Linked DNA regions of Homo sapiens. The protein of the gene in region 6 purifies or fractionates together with the protein of the main gene of each other region. This does not show direct contact. Each region holds a gene or a part of one and is shown on either strand. Other genes may lie near its edges. The genes, in order: ZNF664, XRN1, FBLL1, DHX30, SLC25A13, KDF1 and DHX40.

Region 1 (2,356 bases), on a different chromosome or scaffold from region 6:
TGCCAATGACTTTTCTGATAGGCTAAGTGAATGGGAATTATGAGTCACCTAAAATCTAAAATGAAAGTTAATGCCATCTAGGAAGGGATGGATATTTATGGGGATTTTGAGGACATATATTCAGAAATAATAGGATATATGGAAAGATATGTAGGGGCTAAATCAAGTGTTAACCTCAGAAATACCAGAACGTGATCTTAGTGGGAGCTGTCTGTTTTCCAATGCATTGCCAGTATGCTCGAATAAAGAGGAAGGAAGGGCATGAGCTCCTCAAGGGGGAGTATCTGGGATAGCTTTTAAGCAAAGTATAGATAGAAGGTGACTCAGGAGGCCGGGCAATGATTGTGGCTTTTTGTGTAGTCTTTCAACTATGGAGGCATCGTGCTGGAATCCCAGGAAGCGACGTCTGTGACTGGGACCTGAGAGCCATCCTGCGTGGATGCTCAGAGGTCCACATTCAAAGTCAACCTGTGGAACACACTTGGCATGAACCAACAAATCAATCTCACATATGCCTCCTCAGAAACAATGTTCTGCTAGGGATTGCGTAAATATTTCTTGGGTCAATGTAGGTATATACAGGGTTTCCTTCCTAGTGGCACTTATGGGTTTTAAGATTTTAAACTCTTAGCAAAACGTTTTATATAACTGATATTTTGAGATGGTTTCTCTCCTTTGTGTGGACTCTCTGGTGGATGCAGAGGCTCGTACTCTGACTGAAGGCCTTTCCGCACTCATCACATTTGAAAGGTTTCTCTCCTGTGTGGACTCTCTGGTGGATGCACAGGCTCGAACTCTGACTGAAGGCCTTCCCACATCCACAACATCTATAGGGTTTCTCTCCAGTGTGGACTCTCTGGTGGATGCAGAGGCTCGAACTCTGACTGAACGCCTTCCCACACTCATAACATTTATAGGGTTTCTCTCCTGTGTGGACTCTTTGATGCATGCAGAGGCTGGAGGTGTGCCTGAAGGCCTTCCCACACTCTTCACATTTAAAGGGCTTCTCTCCGGTGTGGACTCTCTGATGCATGCAAAGGTTTGAACTATTACTAAAGCCCCTTCCACACTCACTACAGACATACGGTTTCTCACCTGTATGAACTCTCATATGAATTTGAAGATGGGAGCTCCAATTGAAGGCTTTGCCACACTCGTAACATTTATAGGGCTTCTCCACTGTGTGGATTTTCTTATGTCTATTAAGTTTTGTTGTAGTGCTAAAATCCTTACCACAATCATCACATTTATAGACCTTCTCTCCTGTATGGTCTCTCCAATGAATATGAAGTTCTGATATATGAAAGAAACCCTTATCACACTTGTCACATTTATGGGGCTTCTCAGCTGTGTGAATTTTCTGATGCATAAAAAGATCTGCTCTCTCAGAGAAAAATTCCCTACACATGGGGCACTTGTAGATCATTTTTCCTATTTGGTATCGTGATTTCAAGGAGAAAATTTCCTTATGATTACTACAGTTACAAGACTGTTATTTCATAGAGTCTCTTATTTGGCCATTTTGGCAGTCTATCTCAGGCTTGCTCTATTAGGTAAGTTTAAGGTCAGCCTAAGCTTTTCCCTGCCTGTCTTTCTACGGAAGGTTTCTTCCTGCATAGTGTTCCTCACTCAGTATTATTATCGATTATAAAGTGACATTGACTTCCACGTGAATTCTGTAACTCATTAACACAGAACTTTGTTTTAGATCCTGAGTTGTCAACATTCCAAGGGGCTCTCAAAGTGCAAACCTTTGCGTTTTTGAGCCCCTGGAATCTTCCTCTTGTAGAGTAATCTTGTATGTCTCACTTCTAGAAAAAGGACTGTACAGTATATCCCCTGTATCGAAGGATGAGATACTGCTGGCTGGTCTCGAGCCCCTGCAGTTGCCCCTTGAAGAGTCAGTTTGGCATTCTGCCTCCTGCACATCAGACAGGAAAGCCTTTCCAGCAAGCAGGCTCCTCGGGGTCCAGGTATGGCAAGCCCTGCTTTGGGGAATTCCCTACATGGGTATCATGCCGTCTCCTGTAATAGAAACATAAATAAATAAATTGAAAATGCTTTTATCTGGAAAACTGCTATTGATTCCAAAATTAATTTTATATAAATGTGACAGCAGTAACACAAACCTTTTTTGGTCTTGAAGAAGCTCTCTTATCTTCCAAAGATGTGTCTCTTGGATTTGCAGGTCTGAAGGAGAGAATTTGTAGATATCATGCTCCTGTTTACAGCTCAAGTATATAATCCAATTACAATAACTCATTGTAATTATCTGAGCAACATCAAGGGGAACATTATTGAAAGAGAAAAGAAATCCTCAAAAAGACCTACATGTGAGTATGAAAACCAGCTGTCC
Region 2 (3,500 bases), on a different chromosome or scaffold from region 6:
ATTTCTGTTTTTTTAGTAGAGATGGGGTTTCGCCACGTTGGCCAGGCTGGTCTCAAACTCCTGACCTCAGGTAATCCACCCATTTTGCCTCCCAAAGTGCTGGGATTACAGGTGTGAGCCACTGCACCTGGCCTTAAATAATTGTTTTTAATAACATGTTTTAAGTAATTTTTTTAAAAAGCCCAGAAAATAATTCATTTTCTGGGCTTTTATGTTTAGAAATGTTTTCCACATTTATTAACATAAAACACAATGTACCTCTTCAACAGTAAAAATAAGGAACTGATTATTGAAGATCTCATTAAATGACAGAAGCTAATAGAAAAAAAGAAACCAAATCAATTTCTGAAATGCCTATAGAGAGGAAGAGAAATAAAACGAGGCAATCCCAAATCATAAGAAGGAAAATGAGAAACAAAGAATATAATTTTTGCCTTTACAGTTAAAACAATGAAAGGACACCTAAAAAAATAGACACCTTTAACTTTTTCTTTTCCTTGTAGTTCCTGGCTTCTTCTGCTGCGACACCTGCTGCTTCATTGAGGTACTTGTTACCAACTTTGCTTTCAAACCATTTTAGGTCCACAAAAACTTCACTGAAGTGCTCCCGATCAAACTGTACAGAAATATTTAAATTTATTTTTAAATAATTTAAGTATATCTAGAAGAATACAAATCAAACTTAAAACAGTGACTACTACTGGGGTATAGGAAATTGGAGAATGTTACTCTTTTATATATATGGGAGACCTCATGTGTTACTCTAAAAATACAAATAGAAAGCAAATAAAAATAAAATTAATTTAGGTAAAAGTGTTTATATTGAATAAGCAATTGGAATAGAATTATAAAACCCCTTTCTTCTGGTATTACATAATTGGTGACTGATCATTTACAGCTACTCTGCGACAGGAAACCAAAAATTTCTAGTTACTTACATCTGATAGTTTCACAAGGTATTTCTCAAATCGAGGTAAGTTGAGGTGCCCACTTTCATTAATATAACCTAAAAGAAACAAAAATTTAAATCTGTACTAAAAGCTGACATTTTTTCTAAACAATTCTACAAAACTCTTTCTACAAAATGTTGAATGTTCATGTTCTACAGTACTAATCAAGAAAAAACAGTGTTGGACTATATCCAAACTGGCCCTAGTTTCTGTGAATTTTATGCTACTATAATATGCAACATGTAAGCACCAAAGCCAAATATAAGAAATTCCAGGTTCCACATAATAATCCAACATTTGGTAACAATTAATTAAATTAAATATGGTCTATAATCTATCTAGATCATTTAATATGATATGTTAACTTAAGGACTGATGTTCTGCTACCCTGTGGTCTGTTTTATTTGGCATCACTATGTTTGTCAATTTTCTGTTTTCATTGAAAAATCACTGCTTCATAATAAACACTGTGATGCATATCCATTCGAAAAAAATTGAATTTCTATGCTTAAATATGAAAAAAGTAAAACCAATAAAGTATGCTGGCTTTCTTAAGGAATTAAAGGCAAAGATTAGACCGGGTGTGGTGGCTCATGCCTGTAATCCCAGCACTTTGGGAAGCCAGATCACTTGAGGCCGAAGTTTGAGACCAGCCTGGTCAATATGGTAAAACCCCATCTCCACTAAAAATATAGAACTTAGCTGGGCATGGTGACACATGCCTGTAATCCCAGCTACTCAGGAGGCAGAGGCATGGGCATAGCTTGAATCCAGAAGGCAAACGTTGCACTGTCGCCACTGCACTCCAGCCTGGGCAACAGAGCAAGACCCCGTCTCAAAAAATAAATAAATAATAAAAAAAAGGCAAAGATTAGTTAGATATCAATAATTGAGGTTCGTTAACTCTGTTCACTTTCTTTCCTTGTGAATCACTGAAAATGACAACCTCAGAGGTTAGCACCTTAGACCAAAATAAATCCTCAATGTTTTTCTGCTTTAGCGTGCATGCAATAATCTACTAAACTAAGTCACATTTTTAGGGTAAGGTGGCACTAAATTAAAGTATCCTCGAGAGATTATTAAATTCTTCTTACCCCCAAGTTCTGGCAGGATGGTAACATATGTTCCATAAAGAAGAGGCAGTGCATCATGATTAATATGTAAATGAGGTAGATGAGGGATAAAATCATTACCAACAAGAAACCCCATCAAAATCCAATCATCTATTATCCTTTCAATATCATATTTAAATGTGATCTTTTCCTACAGTAAAATAGAGAACAAAGTCAAATCCAGTGAAAATTTCTGCAATGGAAATCCTTGGTCCATGGCTTTATTAATACTTACTTTTAATACTGAAAACTCATAGTCAATATACTCTCTCATTAAAGACAAGTGTAGAAGGTGAAATGTAGTTTCTTCTGGAGCACATACCCTGGAATTAGTCAGATGATCAAGATACAGTGAATTTTATTTTTAAGGTCCCAGCTTAAAAATGTAACAAAGCTTAAATCAAAAGTATCATCAGAAGATAGTAAGGTCTTGTAATTAAGGCATACAATTTATATGAAGGTTGCAGGGTAACAAAGATAAAAATACAATTGCAATAATAGATAATACATGTTAAAGTTCAAAACAATTGGTTTACATTATGTGTTCTGTGGAAGGATTCTCAGAATTAAGAAGTCCTAAATAACATATAGTAGAAGTAAGAAACTACTGAGATCTGGCCCATTTAAGGCTGGTCTTTTCAACAAATAATGCAAGGAAGATTGGATATCCACATGCAAAAGAATGAAGTTGGGCCCTTACCTTACACTACACACTAAAATTAACTCAAAATGAATCAAAGATCTAACCATAAAAGTTAAAACTTGAAAACTCCTAAAAAAAGAAGAATAAATGAGTTGGATTATAACAAAATTAAAAACGTTTGTGCATCAAAGGACACTATCAACATAGTGAAAAGGCAACCTACGGAATGAGATAAAGTATTTACAAACATGTATCTGTTAAAGAATTACTATCCAGGCGTAATTTCTTTCTTCCAACATATATGCTATATAATTTACCGTTGTGTTTTTTTGCCACCAAATCGAACTTCTTCTCTTAAGAGAGAAAAATGTGCCTCATGACTTGTTAATCCAAGCATAATCTGTTGAAAAATGATTAAGAAATGTTTTTATTCTCCCATTTTTAATAATATTAGGTTCACAAAAGCAATTAAAAAACAATTCTATACAAGGAAGAATAAGAAACAATTAGCACATTAAATATACAAATAACAAAATATGATCTATTTGTAGGTAATGAATGAGATAAAGTGTACTTTTCTAAGAAAAATATGTTCACCTTAGCTCACATGCTTTTCATAACCATTACCCTATCCCCTGTCCCCTCTCCTCTTCCTATCCCTCCAAATCCCAAACATCTTCTCTTGGTTTTCACATATTTCTACTTGCCGTGGGGGAACTGGTTAGAAATTAGAGGCAGCAGCTTTTCTATGACCAAAGAATGCAGGACTCTTTTGGAGACCAGGATAGCCCCAGT
Region 3 (3,292 bases), on a different chromosome or scaffold from region 6:
CTCTATTATTCAAGGTTCTCCAAAGACACAGGCCTGTAGGATATATATATGTGTGTATATATAGGATATATATTGGCTCATGTGATTGTGGAGACCAGCAGGTCCAAAATCCGCAGGGCCAATGTCCCAGTCCAAAGGTTGTCAGGCAGAAAGAGCTGATGTGCCAGTTGAAAGGCCCTTGGGCAGGAGAATTCTCTCTTCCGTGGGGAAGGTCAGCATTTTGCTTTATTTCTGCCTTCAACTGATTAGATGAGGCCCAGCCACATCGTAGACGGCAATCAGCTTTACTCAATATACCAATTTAAATGTTAATCTCATCAAAAAACACCCTCACAGAAACACTCAGAATACTATTTGACCAAATATCTGGGCATCCCATGGCCCAGTAAAGTTGACACATAAAATTAACCCTCACAGACACCAAGTGTAGTTCATCATTTTGGAAAATATTCACCTTATAGCAAGAATGGAAACCTCTAAGTAGAGTATTTTATGTGAACCATTCAACCTCAGGAATCATACATTTCACTCACTGATCCCTTGTTCACATTCCAGTGTATAAAACTCTGGTCCCCATTAAGGAGACACTCCAGTCCTCAGGGAAAATCAGACCTGGCACTGTCGTCCATGAGTATGAGACGGGAAGAGCTGTGGTCCAGGATGGAACGGAAGTCATACTGCACATACCAGGTGTTCAGTAAATGCTCCGATCTTCAGGTGCGCGTTGTCTCTCTCTCTCTCTCTCTCGAGTAGACACTTAATTCAACTAACGGGAGGCTGGCCAGTTGTTTCACCACCTATCCTACTTTCCCCAGCTCTTGTGTGGTTCCCAAAGCCCCTAGCAGTAGCCAAAACGGGGGCCCCAACTGCTGTCGCTGTCCCTGGTGCTGACTAAACCCTAAAGCCTCTGCGTTGCGGCCTTGGGGCCATTGGTGGTGCCGAGTTATTCTTTTATTTTCTTTCTGTTCTTTTCTTTTTTTCTTTTCTTCTCGTTGCTGCCCTTGGTGCTGCCCAATTATTCTTTTCTTTTCTTCTCCTCTCCCTCTCTCTCTTTTCTTTCTCTCTCTTTCTTTCTTTTTCTCTTTTTCTTTCTTTCCTCAAGAAAATGCTGCAGATTTAGAGAGTGACTTTGAAGCATAGACTAGACTTCGAGGATGAACATGACATTTTGGCTCTCTGTGTATCCCCATTCACACTGAAGAATCAACAACACTTCCTTGCTGATCAATAGTCCCAGAACTGGTGGCACAGCCAGGACCGACGCTGATGCTTACCTCCCCCTCTCCTGCAGCAGAGACGCCCCCGTCCCTGTGGCCCAGGGAAGTGCCAGGGATCCCTGGGAAGGCGGGAGATGGGGAAGGGGCAGGGTGAGCGAAGAGGAGCAGGCTGCGTCTGCACGCGGGCTGGGAAGCGGGGCTTCCGGGCCGCAGGGTCGCGGGGACGGGTGTGATGCAATCGCGCCACAGCCGCTGCGTCAAGGGGCGGCTCCGGGATGCGGGCACTGCGGTAGAGCCCGTCCTGCCCCCGCCGCCCGCCGCCCGCCGCCCGCCTCCGCTGCTAAACCCGCGGACAACCGCCGGGACGACCACCCAGAGCCACCAGAGCCCCCTGACACCCGCCCCGAGGCACCGGTAACCCACGGCACCCGCCCCGGTGCGTGCCATGAAGTCGGCCGCGAGCTCGCGCGGGGGCGGTGGGGGCGGCCGCGGGGGCGGCGGCTGGGGCAGCTGGGGCGGGGGCCGAGGCGGCGGCGGCGGCGCGGGCAAGGGCGGCGGGGGCGACGGCGGCGGCCAGGGGGGCAAGGGCGGCTTCGGGGCGCGGGCGCGCGGCTTCGGCGGGGGCGGCCGGGGCCGGGGGCGCGGCGGCGGCGACGGCAAGGATCGCGGCGGCGGTGGACAGCGGCGGGGCGGCGTGGCCAAGAGCAAGAGCCGCCGCAGGAAGGGCGCCATGGTGGTGTCGGTGGAGCCGCACCGGCACGAGGGCGTCTTCATCTACCGCGGGGCGGAGGACGCGCTGGTCACGCTGAACATGGTGCCGGGCCAGTCTGTGTACGGCGAGAGGCGCGTCACGGTGACCGAGGGCGGCGTGAAGCAGGAGTACCGCACGTGGAACCCGTTCCGCTCTAAGCTGGCCGCGGCCATCCTGGGCGGGGTGGACCAGATCCACATCAAGCCCAAGTCCAAGGTGCTGTACCTGGGCGCCGCGTCGGGCACCACCGTCTCCCATGTCTCCGACATCATTGGCCCAGACGGCCTGGTCTACGCCGTCGAGTTCTCCCACCGCGCCGGCCGCGATCTGGTCAACGTGGCCAAGAAGCGCACCAACATCATTCCGGTCCTGGAGGACGCGCGGCACCCGCTCAAGTACCGCATGCTCATCGGGATGGTGGACGTGATCTTCGCCGACGTGGCCCAGCCGGACCAGTCCCGCATCGTGGCCCTGAACGCCCACACCTTCCTGCGCAATGGGGGCCACTTTCTCATCTCCATCAAGGCCAACTGCATCGACTCCACCGCATCCGCCGAGGCTGTGTTTGCTTCTGAGGTGAGGAAGTTGCAGCAGGAGAACTTGAAGCCTCAAGAGCAGCTGACCCTGGAGCCCTATGAGCGGGACCACGCTGTGGTGGTCGGGGTCTACCGACCTCTTCCCAAGAGCAGCAGCAAATAGCACCCAGCTCAGGCTCGCCTGCCATCTCCCCAAGGCTGCGTTGTGTTTGCTATTATTTTCTGTGTGTTTTCTTTGTGAGTGTTTTGTTTTGTTGTTTTTCTATTAAACTGCATAAAGAAACGGCACCTATCTGTATGGTGATGCCAGGCTAGGTTTTGCTGCAGTAACAATCAACCCCCAAATCCCAGTGGCCTAAACCGGCTGGTATAAGGGGCCCATCCAGCAGTAGCCTGGGAGCTGTGCTCATTCTAATCACTCAGGTCTCCAACTCCCCAGGGCCCCATTTTCACACATGCTCCCCCCATCCCTAGGGCAGAGGAAAGAGAGCTGCGGAATTGCTAATAAAAGCTTTTAAATGTCCCCTTGGAACTGATGGGGCACTTCTGCTCACATTTGGCCAAGTCACATGACCCAGCCTGACTCGGGAAAAACACTGAATGTTGGTGGACAATAATATAGTCAAACACACCAATCATCTGACTCACAGCCAAAGTCTTAACCACAATAGGTTTTTAGTATTTTACTCTTCAACTAAGCCCTTTTGCATTCACTGTTAAAGTGAATAATAAATAAATGTTAAATTTATTCCTCACACCAGCCCTGAGATGGCTTTGTTAGCACTTGC
Region 4 (3,500 bases), on a different chromosome or scaffold from region 6:
CCCCCAACAGGGGCCAACCCCCTGCCTCTGGGCGTGCTGGCACCATCAGCTATAAGGACCTAAAGGACAGGAATCTGGTCCTCATACCACAGGAGGTGCCAACACAAGCTCCTTGCTGCAGGAACAGGCTTCTGCCCTCTCCCCAGACTTCATGGGTTTTACCCACCAGCCTCACTGACAAATGGCCCTCCAGCCACTGCAAAGCTTGCTCCTTCCCAGACAGGCCCCTACCATGCCAAGGTGCTTCTGCTCACAGTGCGTGTGCATCAGGCCAAAGCTCAGATGCCTCCAGTTCTACTCAGTCCTTGTTCTGCCCTCGAGTCACAGGTAGCATATCTGTGCCCTCTTTATCTCACCAATTGCCTGTCCCCTCTTCCTCGTCTTTCTCCAGGTTCTTGTTACCTCTCACCATCAGCTGTAACTAAAACATGGTTCCCAGAGCCAACTGTACCCATGAAATGGTGCACCTGACCATTCAGAGTAAAGCAGGCCCATTTCTATCTTGGTCTGCAAACTAAACCTCCACCAACATGGGTTGAGATTACTAACTCCTCAGGCAGTCAGAGACAATCCCAACTCCCTCCCACTACTGTGCCATCAGCTAACTCCACCAGCCCCTTTCAAGAGAACGGCCATGGCCAGGAGCGGTGGCTCACGCCTGCAATCCCAACACTTTAGGAAGTGAAGGTAGAAAGACTGATTGAGCCCAAGATTTTAAGACCAGTCTTCGCAACACAGTGAGACCCTTGTCTCTACAAAAAATGTTTAAAAATAAGCTGGGAGTGGTGGTGCATACCTATGGTCCCAGCTATGCAGGAGGCTGAGGTGAAAGGATCGCTTAAGCCTAGGAGATCGAGGCTGCAGTGAGCCATGATCGTGCCACTATACTCCAGCCTGGGCCACAGAGACCCTGTCTCAAAAAAAAGAGAACTGCCAGCTGTCTGCCACACTGTCTCTACCTTGATCCTGACTGCTTCCTCAATCATCACTGCAGTCACAAGTCACATTATTCATTCTGCCCACAAAACCCGGGTTATCAGGATCATACTGGACACCAGGTCTGCCTCTCAAAACAGGCCCGGCTCCTCCCGGCTTTATACTATTCAGAACAATGAGCAAGTTTCCTCCCGGCCTCACCAGGTTCAGGCCAACAGTGTGGAAAATGCTGGGTCACGGGCAAAGTATCTCCACAGGGCCTCTGGAAAAGCCATGGCAACAGCCACAGGGCCTACAAGCGAGGCCTGCATACCAGCTGTCTTTGTGCCAGGCAAAAGGCCTGCTGTGGTGGTTTCATTTCCTAGAAAATGGGACCCATTTGCCACTGGCAGAGGGGAGCTTCAAGACATTCTCATGCACCACACCCAGGACCTTCCTGGACTCACCTTCAGTTTCTTGCAGGCCAAGGCTGCCGCCTTATTCTCAGCCTCTGCTTTGCGGCGCCCTTTGGCAACAAAGGTCATGGGGCAGGGCCAGAGCAGGGTGAGTGTAGACAGCTTGGTCTTGGTGCCCACAGTATGGAACTGCATGAGGTTCTACATGGAAGGCAAGAGAGATGGTTACAGAAATGTAGGGAATGGGAAGAGACTTGGGGCATTCTCAGAATGCCAAGGAGCCCAGAGACAGAATGAGCCACCATCTCAGCAGGTGCCAGGCGTGAGCCATGCTAGAGGTGCTGCTGCATAGCCAGGAGCAGGCCCATGGGCTCAGGCACCCTAGTCCCAGGCTCGCTTCTCCTGCTATACCTCGACTTCCACTGCAGAAGACAGTGCTTGGGCAATGCCATCACCTGCCCTCCTAGCCCACTGTCATCTCGGCAACATCGTGGCAGCTGTGGGTTGAAGCTGTCAGCATGAGCTAAAAACCAGGCACATCCTGCGGGAGCAAAAAGACCCTGCACCTGGACAGAAGCTCTGCTTAACTGTTGTACTTAGGCGAGTTAAGGAAACGCCACACTTTGAGACGAATTAAGAGTCCTTTATTAAGCCGGCGGCCAAAGAGACAGCTAATGCTCAAAATTCTTTCGGCCACGAGGAAGGGGCTCGATTAACTTTTATACTTAGGTTTAGGAAGGGGAGGGGGACTTAAATGTAATAATTCTACAGAAGTAAAAACATGCAAGAATCAAAAGAATCAAAATGGTTACAGAGTGATAAACAACTTAAAAGACAAATGGTTACAAGAAGAGCAACAGTACCAGGTGCAAGATTCTAAATCTTTCATTATAATTAGATATAGGGTCTACGCCAGACACGAACTCAAGGTTTTATGTTGTTATCTCTTGGAGAAAATTCCTGGGAACTTCATATATTGTTGGTGTTCGTACCTTATCAGTTAATTAGGCTCCTTTGAAATGCTGAGGATCTGTTTACCCAGGCCAACTCCTTACGAAAGGGGGTTGGGTGAGGAGCCCTTAGTGTCTTGTAAATTAAGGGGTCAATTGGGGTTTGTACGGCTTTCTTAGCTAGAGAGAGTCTTATTTTACATGAGAAGCAAGGCTAGGTGATTAAAGAGACAAGCAGGACAAAATTCAAAGCAACGAGTTAAAGTAAAAACAAGGTTAGGCATTTCATGACCAAAGCCCCTTCGCCTGGCAGCAAGAGAGAAATTCATACCTCACCAAGACCCACACCTCTAACCCTTCCCCACTGACAATCCACCGCCCAGAAGAGGTATGGGTCTTCTGCTCTTGCGGCCCCCAAGCCCACTCCCTGTGCTGCTGAGGCTTGACCTCCATTCCATCACACCTGCTGCTTTTCCTCCCAAGCAGGAGTTCCTCCACCTGGCCTAGGTTTGGGCTGGAGGAACACACCCCCTCAGCCCTCTCTAAACCTGCCTTTAGGGAACACCAGACATGACCAAGTAAACGGCCCCCACACAAACTTCTAGGAGACCCAACTCACCTTAGCTGTGGAGGATGACGTTGCAATCTGAATCACCTTGGCCAGAAGGTTCTTGGGAAGTGGAAACTGGGTCAGAGCCCTAATGGCACTGTCGTCATCTGTCATCTCAAAGGAACTCCCCCTGGGAGGACCAAAAGTTTAACTGAAAGAATTCTCTCTTCCTGGACCAATTTCCCTGAGGCTCTGCGATGTAGGGGTGAGGACGCTGCGCTGCAGCAGGGAGCCAGAAGGGCAGAAGGCATGAAATGGATGGGAAACCGGGCGTCTCTGCTCCTCCCACAGCCACACTGCATGGGGACTGCTCCCTCCATTCCCTCACACAGATAAGATAGCAGAGAGCAGGGGCTCCATGCTGCTGTTCTGCAAAAGCCCAGCCACATAGAAGACCACAGCTGGCTGTCCCCCAAGAATGGGCAGACACACACTGAGTGATGGGGCACACAGGCTGAAATGTGAGGCAGGGGCGCTCCCATCTCAGAGAAAGCTAGCAGAGAACATTCGCCCATCCCCGTGTCAAGGCACAGCCAGCCTCTGCTGCATCCCCATCCTCCATCTGTACCTTGAGTCCCTGAGTGGAGCGTGGGAATCCTGCTGGGTCAT
Region 5 (3,500 bases), on a different chromosome or scaffold from region 6:
AAGGCCATCCAGCTCCAACAAGATAAGAACCCCTAAAACCCAAACAGTGGAGCCATAGATATTTGTTTTAATAATCATCATCATGGTAGCATAAAAACAACTCAAACCTTCTTTCCTCCATTCCTAGCACAAAAACTGATTTGTTTTATTATGATATCACCAAATACTTAGTAGAGTTTTTACATAGGGGAGAAAAAACCCTGCCATTTGAAGAATATCTTTAATAACCTCAATATATTTTATCCTCAATGACAAACCTCTGAAGAGGGTTTTATGATGGGTGAACAATGTGGAAGACATGGAGGTTAAATATACAGCCCAAAGCCTGGGCGACATAGCAAGACCCCCGTCTCTACAAAAAAAAAAAAAATTTTAATTAGCTGGGTGTGGTGGTGTGTGCCTGAGGTCCTAGCTATTCAGGAGGCTGCGGTGGGAGGATCTCTTGTATCCACGAGGTCTAGGCTAGAGTGAGCAATAATCACACCACTGCACTTCCACCTGGGTGAGAGAGTGAGACCCTGTCCCAAATATATATATATATATTATAGTCCAAATCCTAATGGAAACTGGATTAAAGGTATATGACAGTGGTGACAGTTACACAACTCTGTGCATATATTGAAAACCAATAAATCATATGCTTTAAATGGGTAAATTGTATAGTACTTGAATTATATCTCAATAAAGCAATTAAATAAAAGGTATATGACAATTCCTGTCCTGCAGGGATTTGCGATCTGGTTGGAGAGATGAGAAATACACTTAATAAACACTGAAATGAAGCATATACAGAGTGACAAAGGTGTTCTAAGATAAGAACTACTGGACTGGGATGATCAGGAAATATACACATCCATACCCGATGGCATGTGAACTCTCACACATACACCTTCGCAAATGGAACTCTTGGTAAGACCTGGGAGAGCAGCGCAGAGGTTAAGAGCAGAGACTCTGAAGACACATTGGCAAGGTTCAAATCAAGACTGTAGCACTTACCTGTTGCACAAGCGTGAGAAATTACTTAACCTCCCCTAACTCAGTTTTCTCACCTGTAAGTTGAAGTCAAAAACAGAAAGCACCTACTTCTTAGAATTAAGAAAATTAATTGAGTTACTATTTGTAAGGCTCTTGGAAAAGTACCTGGCATGCAAAAAGCACTAGGTAAGGCAGTTCTCAAATAAAAGTCTGGTTTACACTGAGACACCTACCCCTCTCCTAAGTCATCTCCCACACCTCTCCCATATACTTTATTCTCCACCACACTAAACTACCAGGCACACATGGTGGACAGAGTGAGGCCACAGCTGCTGGAGCCAGACTGGCAGGATTTGAACCCCAGCTCGATAATTTCCTAATTATCCGATCTTTTTTATTTTATTTTATTTTTTTGAGACAGAGTCTTGCTCTGTCACCCAGGCTGGAGTGCAATGGCACGACGTCAGCTCACTGCAACCTCCGCCTCCCAGGTTGAAGCAAATTCCCCTACCTCAGCCTCCCGAGCAGCTGAGATTACAAGAATGCACCACTATGCCCGGCTAATTGTTTCCTATTTTTAGTAGAGATGGGCCAGACTGGCCAGGCTGGTCTCAAATTCCTGACCTGAGGTGATTCACCTGCCTCGGCCTCCCAAGGTGCTGGGATTATAGGTGTGAGCCACCGTACCCAGCCATACTTATCAGATCTTAGGCCACTAACATCACCTCTTGGTATCTCAGAGCCTTCATCTATAAAAAAAGGATGATAGTAACTAACTCAAAAGGCTGAGGCATTAAATGAATCAACAACGAAACACAGTTGGAACTGAATTTTAAATGAATCAACAATGAAACACATTTGGAACTGAATTTGGTATCTAGTAAGCGCTCAGTAAGTGTCAGCTGCTTTTAGTTTTTATTACCTGCTGTTAACTAAATGTAGCCTGTGCTCTCACCTCCCAGCCCTTCATTTGTTTCCAACCACTGGATTGGATCTTTACTCTTCCCCATCCATTCCTTCTGAAATACTAGCAATTTTCAGAAGACTTCCCTCATCTCCTCAGAAATGGGCTCTTCTCCTACTGCTCCCACAAACCTTGTAGTGGGAGCATTTCCATCAGAGAACTTAGCCCCCTGGAATGGTTTTGGTTTTCTTGAACATCAAAATGGAGTCCAATTCATTTTATTTATTTTATTCTATTTTATTTTATTTTATTATTTTATTTTACTTTATTTTATTTTTTTTTGAGACAGGATCTCGTTCTGTAACCCAAGCTGGAGTACAGTGGTGCTATCTCAGCTCACTGCAACCTCTGCCTTCTGGGCTCAAGTGATCCTCCTGCCTTAGCCTCCCAAGTAGCCGGGACCACAGATGCGTGCCACCATGCCCAGCTAACAATTCATTTTAGTATTCTCAATTTTGTCCCATTTGCAACACTGGAAAGAACACAATACACATAAATGAATCAATGATCACAGCAACAACTCATCCAAGAATGAAAAGTCAATACAAAGTGTACTAGTCCTACAGACCAAATTGTCTTTATTATTAATGCTTTAATGTGCCCCCAAATTTCCTTCTTTTGGTTCTAGGCTAATATTGGTCTGTGTTCAGTTTTACCCCAGAACATCTCACAGGTCTGAACTCAAGGGAGCATATTCTAACTTTTAGTAGGTTCATATAGGTTAATTACATCATTCGTAACGCATAAATTTAACCAATGACGAAGAAGAAAGCTCTCCTTTAACCAAGAAAAGGGCAGAGACGAAGAAAAGGGTGACCTCTCAATTACCACCTTTTAAAACTGTTTTTTTATGGCAGTTTTGGGAAATGTTTAAAAGAAATATTCAAACAACGCAAACAGTACAGGCAGATCTAACAAGGGAACCCACAAGGATTATTCCTACAAACGTAGGCAGCAAGAGAATGGACACTTTTTGAGATAATCTCAGAATACTAAGAGTTTTAGATTAATGTTCATTCACGAAAGAAAACAAACACTTCTTGAACCATTAACTAGTAATCTTCATAGCAAAATTCAAAATAAAAAGCAGCCAAAGACTAGATTCTCCATCTCCCCATTAAAACTATTTAAAGGAAGGTCATGAATAATTAGCTGTATTTAAATAAGTATAAAGACCAAAGAAAGAAACAGATCAGAAAACTAATTGCTAGTTGTGGCTACATCTATCCAGAAAATACCAAATCTGCTTAAATATTCAAACAATTTGTCACAGTGAGTGTAGTGAGTGTTGGAATTCTCACAGTTGCTGAGTCCCCAGAGTCTCAGCCCAATTTCCTAACAGTCCATTGAGGTGAAGTCCTCTCCTATCCAGGCTCCTCAACTTTTAAGAGGGAATGCCAACCCTACCCCTATGGCTCTGTGTTCAGCTGGCAACATGGAATAGCTATGCTCCAGGGAAAAAGCAAGGAGCACAGCCTTTAACTCAGGCTGCCAACAGAATCAACCGATAAAGGTGATGCCCAAAGGCAGTTCAATAAGGGACATTCTTGGAATAAGTTAG
Region 6 (3,500 bases):
TTGGGGTCTGATCACTTTCAGCTTGCCTGTTCTGGGCACCTGCACCCACTTTAAGCCAGCTTGCTAGATGGAGACAGGTCTGTGGCTGCTTAGGTCCCCGTCCCTTTTTGATGTCATCCTCATCACCCCAAAAGAAAGCTGGGAGAGCAGCAGGTGAGGGGCCCCTAGGGTAGTCCCCCACCCTCCACACCCCTCATTAGGTCAAGACCACACCTGGAGCTCCATAAGGCCTCAGCTTCCGGGCGATGGCATCTGCAGTCGTCTCCTGGGAGATCTGCACTGTCAGCTCTAGGGAGGGAACGTGAGGCAAGCAGTGGTCATTAGCACGTTCTTTCAACCCTATTTCCTACTTCTGTTCCCAGCCCGATGAGGGAGGAGCCACTCACTCCTGGGCAGGGCTAGAAAAATAATGCTTAAAGACAGAGACATAGACAACGTGTGCATGCGCAGAGTGATGGATGAGTGGGAGTTTTGGTTAGCCCAGAACAGGTCAGAGGCCCAAATTCATGTGGGTCCCTAGGTCCTGTTCACCAGACCAGGCCTAGAAGCTACTCTGGCAGGAGACAGCAGAGGAGAGGAGCCTTTTGGGTAAACTTGTTGAATGCAGAGGGAACCTTGACCTTTCTGGGGACAGCAGCGATGGCCAGAGAGCTCTCCCAGGGTCTGCATGCTTCTCTCAGCCTTGCTCGGACCTCACCAGGAAGGGCCAGAGTGGGAGCTGGGGAGAGGGGATGCAAGAGTTGACAGAAAGGAGGAGGAAAGGCAGGGACTGGCTGAGGGGTAGACCCACAGTGACTAAAGACCCCATTCCAACCCTCCCCTGGCCAGAGCCTCCCCTACTCTGCCCCTCAGCCCCATGGGGCCCCCACCTACCATCCTGGCTGAGACCTGAGCCCACCATGGTCTCATGGCCACTGTCAGGGGCAGCAGCGGTTGGGGCAGCAGCCCGAGTTGAACGACCCTCCGAGGTCTGTGGGCGAGCACGGCTCTTTCGGGTACTAATGCGAATGATGCCGCGTACCAGGCGGCCCTCAGCATCCTGCTCATCCAGGTGGTAGTCCTGCGTGATGCTGCTGATAAGGTCCGAGATCTTACTGGTCTTCTCCAGGAACACAGTGTCTGATGTGCACTTGGCCAGCTCATCGATCTGGTGTACGCTGAACAGCTCTGTCAGCTTCTTGAAGATGAGCACATCAATTTCTCGGCTCGACATGGAGCCACTGCCCATCTCCGGCAGGTCCAGGTCCGACTCATGGAAAGAATAGTACTCCTCGGAGCCACGAGGACTACTGGCAAAGGTGCTGGGCAGGCTGTGTCGCATGGGTGGGGGATCGGCCAGTGGCTCCTTGCAGCAGGAGTCCGCATCAGGGGCTGGGGAGGTGGCCCTCGGGTAGGGATACACAGGGATGCCTTTGAGCTTAACATCGGGGTAGCTGAAGCTGCTGCCCATGGTTGACTTGAGCCGCTGGCCATCCCGCCGGCTGGGGGGTGCACGATCAGGGCTGGGGGGCACTCCATTGTGCTCCTTGGCCCAGTTGGCTTCAGCAGTCCCCTCAGTGGAGTCCTCAGTAGACAGGCAGGGGCTGCATCCCCGCACACAGGCTCCACAGCGCTGGAGGCAATCCCGGCAGCGGCGGAAGCAGAAGGCAGCCCGGCACCACTCCCACACCCAGGGTCGCCAGAGCAGGCAGCAGGTGGGGGACTCAAGGGCCGGCTCAGCAGAGCCAGAGATGAAGGTAATGCTCTCTGGCCCATGGTGGCCAGGGTCCTTGGGGTCTGGTCTACGGGTGCGGCGGCTTGGTGGGGGCTGAGGTGGTTTATCATATGTCTCCAGACATAGCTCTGTTGGCCGCTCCCACGGTCCCAAGCGTGGAGGCCCAGATGCTGGGCGGGGGTGTCCAGGGCGGGGCATGGCTCATTGCATGGTTTGTAGCAGCCAGGCACCTGCGTGGGGAGAGGCCAGGAAGGAGTCAGGATCAGAGGTGAGGGACAAACTCCTGGGCTGACTTGAGCAGCTTCACATTTCTAGTTTCTGAGAGGCCTGGGATGTGGATGGACCCAAGTATGCCCAAAAACCCTTGCCTGGGATGTGGATGGACCCAAGTATGCCCAAAAACCCTTATCTCTTGTGGCCCTCCCTCCACAAAGAGAAAGTCTCTGTGGTCTAACCCAGATTTCAAAATTCCCTGTGACTTAGACCTATTGGGATGGCTATGAAAGGTTGAACATTGGCCGGGCGTGGTGGCTCACGCCTGTAATCCCAGCACTTTGGGAGGCCGAGGCAGGCAGATCACCTGAGGTCAGGAGTTCGAGACCAACCTGACTAACATGGTGAAACTCCGTCTCTACTAAAAATACAAAAAAAATTAGCCAGGTATAGTGGTGGGTGCCTGTAATCCCAGCTACTTGGGAGGCTGAGGCAGGAGAATCGCTTGAACCCGGGTGGCAGAGGTTGCAGTGAGCCAAGATCACGCCATTGCACTCCAGCCTGGGCAACAGGGCGAGACTGTGTCTCAAAAAAAAAAAAGAAAGAAAAAGAAAAAAAGAAAGGTTGAACATCTTATCTGAAATGCTTGGGTCCAGAAATGTTTTGGATTCTGAATTGTGGATTGTATACATTATACTTACCTGTTAAGCATTCCTCATCCAAAAATCTGAAATGCTCCAATGAGCATTCCTTTAAGTATCATGCTGGTGCTCAACTTTCAGATTTTGGAGTGTTTTGGATTTTTGGATTAGGGATACTCAATCTCTCAATCTGTATTTAAAAATAATCTCCCTTCTCCCAGAAAATAATGAGTGTTGGCAATAATGTGGAAAAACTGGAACCCTTGTGCATTTCTGGTGGGAATGTAAAATGGTGCAGCTGCTATGGAAAACAGTACGGTGGTTCCTCCAAAAATTAAACATCGAATTACCACACGACCCAGCAATTCCACTTCTGGGTACATACCCAATCTAATTGAGAGCAGGGACTCAGATGTTTAGACAATGTTCACAGCAGCATTATTCACAATAGCCAAAAGGTGGAAACAATCCCAGTGTCTACCAATGGATGAATGACTAAACAAAATGTGGTATATACATACAATGGAATATTACTCAGCCTTAAAAAGGAAAGGAAATTCTTATACATGCTGCAACATGGATGAACCTTGAAGAACTTATGCTAAGTGAAATAAGCCAGACACAAAAGGACAAATAGCCCGGGTGCGGTGGCTCATGCCTGTGATCCCAGCAATTTGGGAGGCTGGGATGGGTGGATCACTTGAGCGCAGGAGTTCAAGACCAGCCTGGCCAACATGGTGAAAGCCCATCCCTACTGAAAATACAAAAATTAGCTGGGCGTGGTGGTGCACACCTGTAGTCCTAGTTACCTGGGGGACTGAGGTGGGAGGACCACTTGAGCCTTGGAGGTGGAGGTTGCAGTGAGCTGAGATCGTGCCATTGCACTCCAGCCTGGGCAACAAAGCCAGACCCTGTCTCAAAAAAAAAAAAAA
Region 7 (3,500 bases), on a different chromosome or scaffold from region 6:
AATTTGTTGGTGCCATGAATATAGAAGATGCTTTAACACTTGCTGATTTTGTTAATTGGCTGATTTTGTTAATTCAGCTTTCCATTGACTTCAAGAATACAAACACATAAAATAAATCAACCTGAAAACATGCTCAGTGAAATAAGAGTGACACGAAGTACAAAATATTGTGTGATTCCACTTGAATGAGGTACCCGGAGTAGGCAAATTTGTAGAGACAGAAAGTAGAACAGAAGATACAGCAGGGCGCGGTGGTTTACCCTGTAATCCCAGCACTTTGGGAGGCCGAGGTGGGCAGATCACAAGGTCAGGAATTTGAGACCAACCCCATCTCTACTAAAAATACAAAAAATTAGCTGGGCGTGGTGGCAGGAGCCTGTAAACCCAGCTACTTGGGAGGCTGAGGCAGGAGAATCACTAGAACCTGGGAGGCAGAGGTTGCAGGGAGTGGAGGTTGCGCCACTGCACTCCAGCCCGGGCAATGGTGTGAGACTTCGTCTCAAAAAAAAAAAAGAAGTTACCAGAGGCTAGGGGGAGGGAGAAATGGGGGTTTTAATCTATAAGAGTTTCTGTTTGGGATGATAAAAAAAGTTCTGAAAGTAGAAATGGTGATGGTTACCCAACATTGTGAACACATTTTTTTTTTTTTTTTGAGGTGGAGTTTTGCTCTTGTTGCCCAGGCTGGAGTGCAGTGGCGCGATCTCAGCTCACCGCAACCTCCGCCTCCCGGGTTCAAGCCATTTTCCTGCCTCAGCCTCCTGAGTAGCTGGGATTACAGGCATGCACCACCGTGCCCAGCTAATTTTGTATTTTTAAAAGAGACAGGGTTTCTCCATGTTGGTCAGGCTGGTCTCGAACTCCTGACCTCAGGTGATCCACCCGCCTCGGCCTCCCAAAGTGATGGGATTACAGACGTGAGCCATCGAGCCCAGCCCATTGTGAACATACTTAATGGCACTGAATTGTATACCAAAATAGTAAAATGGTCGATTTTAAGTTATATATATTTTACTACAATAAAACATTTTAAAAACCTACATGTCAAGAATCCTTACAGTTAAAAAACATAAATAAGAGAATCCTAAGAAAATAAACTGTCATTTATAAACTAAGGAAGGAGAAAATGGGATGAACATCAGACACTTGAGAGCTAAAGCATTAACAATGAACAACAAAAATAAATTCTTTAAAATATATATTGAACTTTGAAGTTAAAAATCTTTCAGAACTCTCTCCACTCTTTCTGTTAAGTTTATAACATTAGCTGGGCATGGTGGCATGCTCCTGTAGTCCCAGCTACCCAAGGGGCTGAGGTAGGAGATCACTTGAGCCCAGAAGGTAGAGGCTACAGAGAGCCATGATTGCGCCACGCACTCCAGGCTGGGCGACAGAGCAAGACCCTGTCCCATAAAAGAAAAGAAACAAATACCAACAAGACTTTTGTACCTTAGAACTGCAATCATCAAAACGAACTTGGTATCCTACTTTGGATCCCAAAGTGCATTTCATTTCTTCAGCTACTCTCTGAGCAACTGATATAGCAGCTACTTTTCGTGGTTGAGTTACACCAATCATACCATGTTGTGAAAACCCTATCAAAACCAGAGATAAAGAAACACAACAATGTTAGCAATTGTCTTCCTATTAGAGCTAAATTGTTTTTGGCCAATCAACACAAAACTGCTTGAATGTTTCCAAAAGAATATCTCGCAAATTAAAAACACACTGCTATGTTTGCATCATGGAAATTTAAATATTAATTTAAAATAATACATATTAATAACCATGCAAAAATATATTATATATATAATATATAAATATATATAATATAAATCCAGTTTATATTATATATATTTATATATTATATATATTATATACTAATATATATTTAATATATAATATATATTATAATATATTATATATTATATATATTAATATATAACATATTATATGTATTATATAATTTATAATATATTATATATAAATATACATTATAATATATTATAATATATACTATATATTATATATAAATATACATTATAATATAATGTATATTATATATATTTAGACAGAGTTTTGCTCTTGTTGCCTAGGCTGTAGTGCAATGGCGCAATCTCGGCTCACCGCAACCTCTGCGTCCCAGGTTCAAGCAACTCTCCTGCCTCAGCCTCCCGAGTAGCTGGGATAACAGGCATGTGCCACCATGCCGGGCTAATTTTGTATTTTAGCAGAGACGGGTTTTTTCCCTGTTGGTCAGGCTGGTCTTGTACTCCCAACCTCAGGTGATCCACTTGCCTCTGCCTCCCAAAGTACTGGGATTATAGGCTTGAGACACCACGCCCAGCCAAAACAAAAAAAAAGAAAGAAAAAATTATATATATATCTATATATATATATAGATATATATATATTTTTTTCTTTTTTGAGACGGAGTATTGCTCTGTTGCCCAGGCTGGAATGCAGTGGCGCGATCTCGGCTCACTGCAACTTTCACTTCCTGGGTTCAAGCGATTCTCCTGCCTCAGCCACCTGAGCAGCTGGGATTACAGGCGCTTGCCACCAGGCCCAGCTAATTTTTTTGTAAAAAATATATTTTTTAAATTAGAATTCAGGCTTTGTCTGTTTTTTTCTGTCTAAAAATCTACTCTAAAGGTAAGCCAAGAATTTTGAAACATAAGAATTCATAAAATTCCACACACTTCCCAAAATAAATTTACTTTTGCCACAAGAGTAAAACTGGATTTATTTATTTATTTATTTATTTATTTATTTATTTATTTTTGAGATAGAGTCTTGCTCTGTTGCCCAGGCGGGAGTGCAGTGGCACAATCTCGGCTCACTGCAACCTCTACCTCCTGGGTTCAAGCAATTCTCCTGCCTCAGCCGCCTGAGTAACTGGGATTACAGGTGCGCGCCACCACACCCAGCTAATTTTGTATTTTTAGTAGAGATGGGGTTTCACCATGTTGGCCAGGCTGGTCGCAAACTTCTGACCTCAAGTGATCCATCTGCCTCAGCCTCCCAATGTGCTGGGATCACAGGCATGAGCCACTGCACCCAGCCTAAAACTGGACTTAAATATGCCACCTTTCTGCTGGGAGCAGTGGTACACACCTGTAATCCCAGCTACTCAGGAGCCTGGCTACTCAGAAGGTTGAGGTAGGAGGATTGCTTGAACTCAGGAGTTTGAGATCAGCCTGGGCGACATAGTAAGATCTCATCTCAAAAAAATAAATAAATATATATATCTATATTTATATATATATATATATGCACCTTCCATATACCATTTTAATATATTTGGGAATGGAGCTGCATCTTAAAATCGATGGCGCATTTCCATTCTTACTAATACAGTAGTCCCTCTTTACCTTTGGTTTTGCTTTCCAATTTTTCAGTTACCTACAGTCAGTGGAGGTCCAAAAATGTTACAGTACTTTGAGAGACAGAGAGAGACCACATTTACAAAAGTTTTACTACAGTATATTGTCATAACTGCT

Evidence for each region.
Region 1: the proteins of KDF1 (region 6) and ZNF664 purify together in Homo sapiens (affinity purification with mass spectrometry, with the first as the bait; one large-scale study listed by BioGRID). This does not show direct contact.
Region 2: the proteins of KDF1 (region 6) and XRN1 purify together in Homo sapiens (affinity purification with mass spectrometry, with the first as the bait; one large-scale study listed by BioGRID). This does not show direct contact.
Region 3: the proteins of KDF1 (region 6) and FBLL1 purify together in Homo sapiens (affinity purification with mass spectrometry, with the first as the bait; one large-scale study listed by BioGRID). This does not show direct contact.
Region 4: the proteins of KDF1 (region 6) and DHX30 purify together in Homo sapiens (affinity purification with mass spectrometry, with the first as the bait; one large-scale study listed by BioGRID). This does not show direct contact.
Region 5: the proteins of KDF1 (region 6) and SLC25A13 purify together in Homo sapiens (affinity purification with mass spectrometry, with the first as the bait; one large-scale study listed by BioGRID). This does not show direct contact.
Region 7: the proteins of KDF1 (region 6) and DHX40 purify together in Homo sapiens (affinity purification with mass spectrometry, with the first as the bait; one large-scale study listed by BioGRID). This does not show direct contact.

The regions. Positions count from the first base shown.
Region 1 is NC_000012.12:124,011,215-124,013,570, reverse strand, and holds part of ZNF664 (zinc finger protein 664), read right to left. Parts: intron 2,191-2,356; 5' UTR 2,130-2,190; intron 2,026-2,129; 5' UTR 1,427-2,025; coding exon 641-1,426; 3' UTR 1-640. UniProt on the Homo sapiens protein: May be involved in transcriptional regulation.
Region 2 is NC_000003.12:142,420,538-142,424,037, forward strand, and holds part of XRN1 (5'-3' exoribonuclease 1), read right to left. Parts: intron 3,106-3,500; coding exon 3,023-3,105; intron 2,386-3,022; coding exon 2,298-2,385; intron 2,214-2,297; coding exon 2,045-2,213; intron 1,007-2,044; coding exon 939-1,006; intron 617-938; coding exon 479-616; intron 1-478. UniProt on the Homo sapiens protein: Major 5'-3' exoribonuclease involved in mRNA decay. Required for the 5'-3'-processing of the G4 tetraplex-containing DNA and RNA substrates. The kinetic of hydrolysis is faster for G4 RNA tetraplex than for G4 DNA tetraplex and monomeric RNA tetraplex.
Region 3 is NC_000005.10:168,527,843-168,531,134, forward strand, and holds FBLL1 (RNA 2'-O-methyltransferase FBLL1), read left to right. Parts: upstream 1-1,462; 5' UTR 1,463-1,662; coding exon 1,663-2,667; 3' UTR 2,668-2,792; downstream 2,793-3,292.
Region 4 is NC_000003.12:47,841,138-47,844,637, reverse strand, and holds part of DHX30 (ATP-dependent RNA helicase DHX30), read right to left. Parts: coding exon 3,460-3,500; intron 3,022-3,459; coding exon 2,901-3,021; intron 1,533-2,900; coding exon 1,383-1,532; intron 1-1,382.
Region 5 is NC_000007.14:96,315,599-96,319,098, forward strand, and holds part of SLC25A13 (electrogenic aspartate/glutamate antiporter SLC25A13, mitochondrial), read right to left. Parts: intron 1-3,500. UniProt on the Homo sapiens protein: Mitochondrial electrogenic aspartate/glutamate antiporter that favors efflux of aspartate and entry of glutamate and proton within the mitochondria as part of the malate-aspartate shuttle.
Region 6 is NC_000001.11:26,950,469-26,953,968, forward strand, and holds part of KDF1 (keratinocyte differentiation factor 1), read right to left. Parts: intron 3,486-3,500; exon of another isoform or gene 3,378-3,485; intron 1,945-3,377; 5' UTR 1,913-1,944; coding exon 874-1,912; intron 289-873; coding exon 214-288; intron 1-213. UniProt on the Homo sapiens protein: Plays a role in the regulation of the epidermis formation during early development. Required both as an inhibitor of basal cell proliferation and a promoter of differentiation of basal progenitor cell progeny.
Region 7 is NC_000017.11:59,568,610-59,572,109, reverse strand, and holds part of DHX40 (probable ATP-dependent RNA helicase DHX40), read right to left. Parts: intron 1,593-3,500; coding exon 1,447-1,592; intron 1-1,446. UniProt on the Homo sapiens protein: Probable ATP-dependent RNA helicase.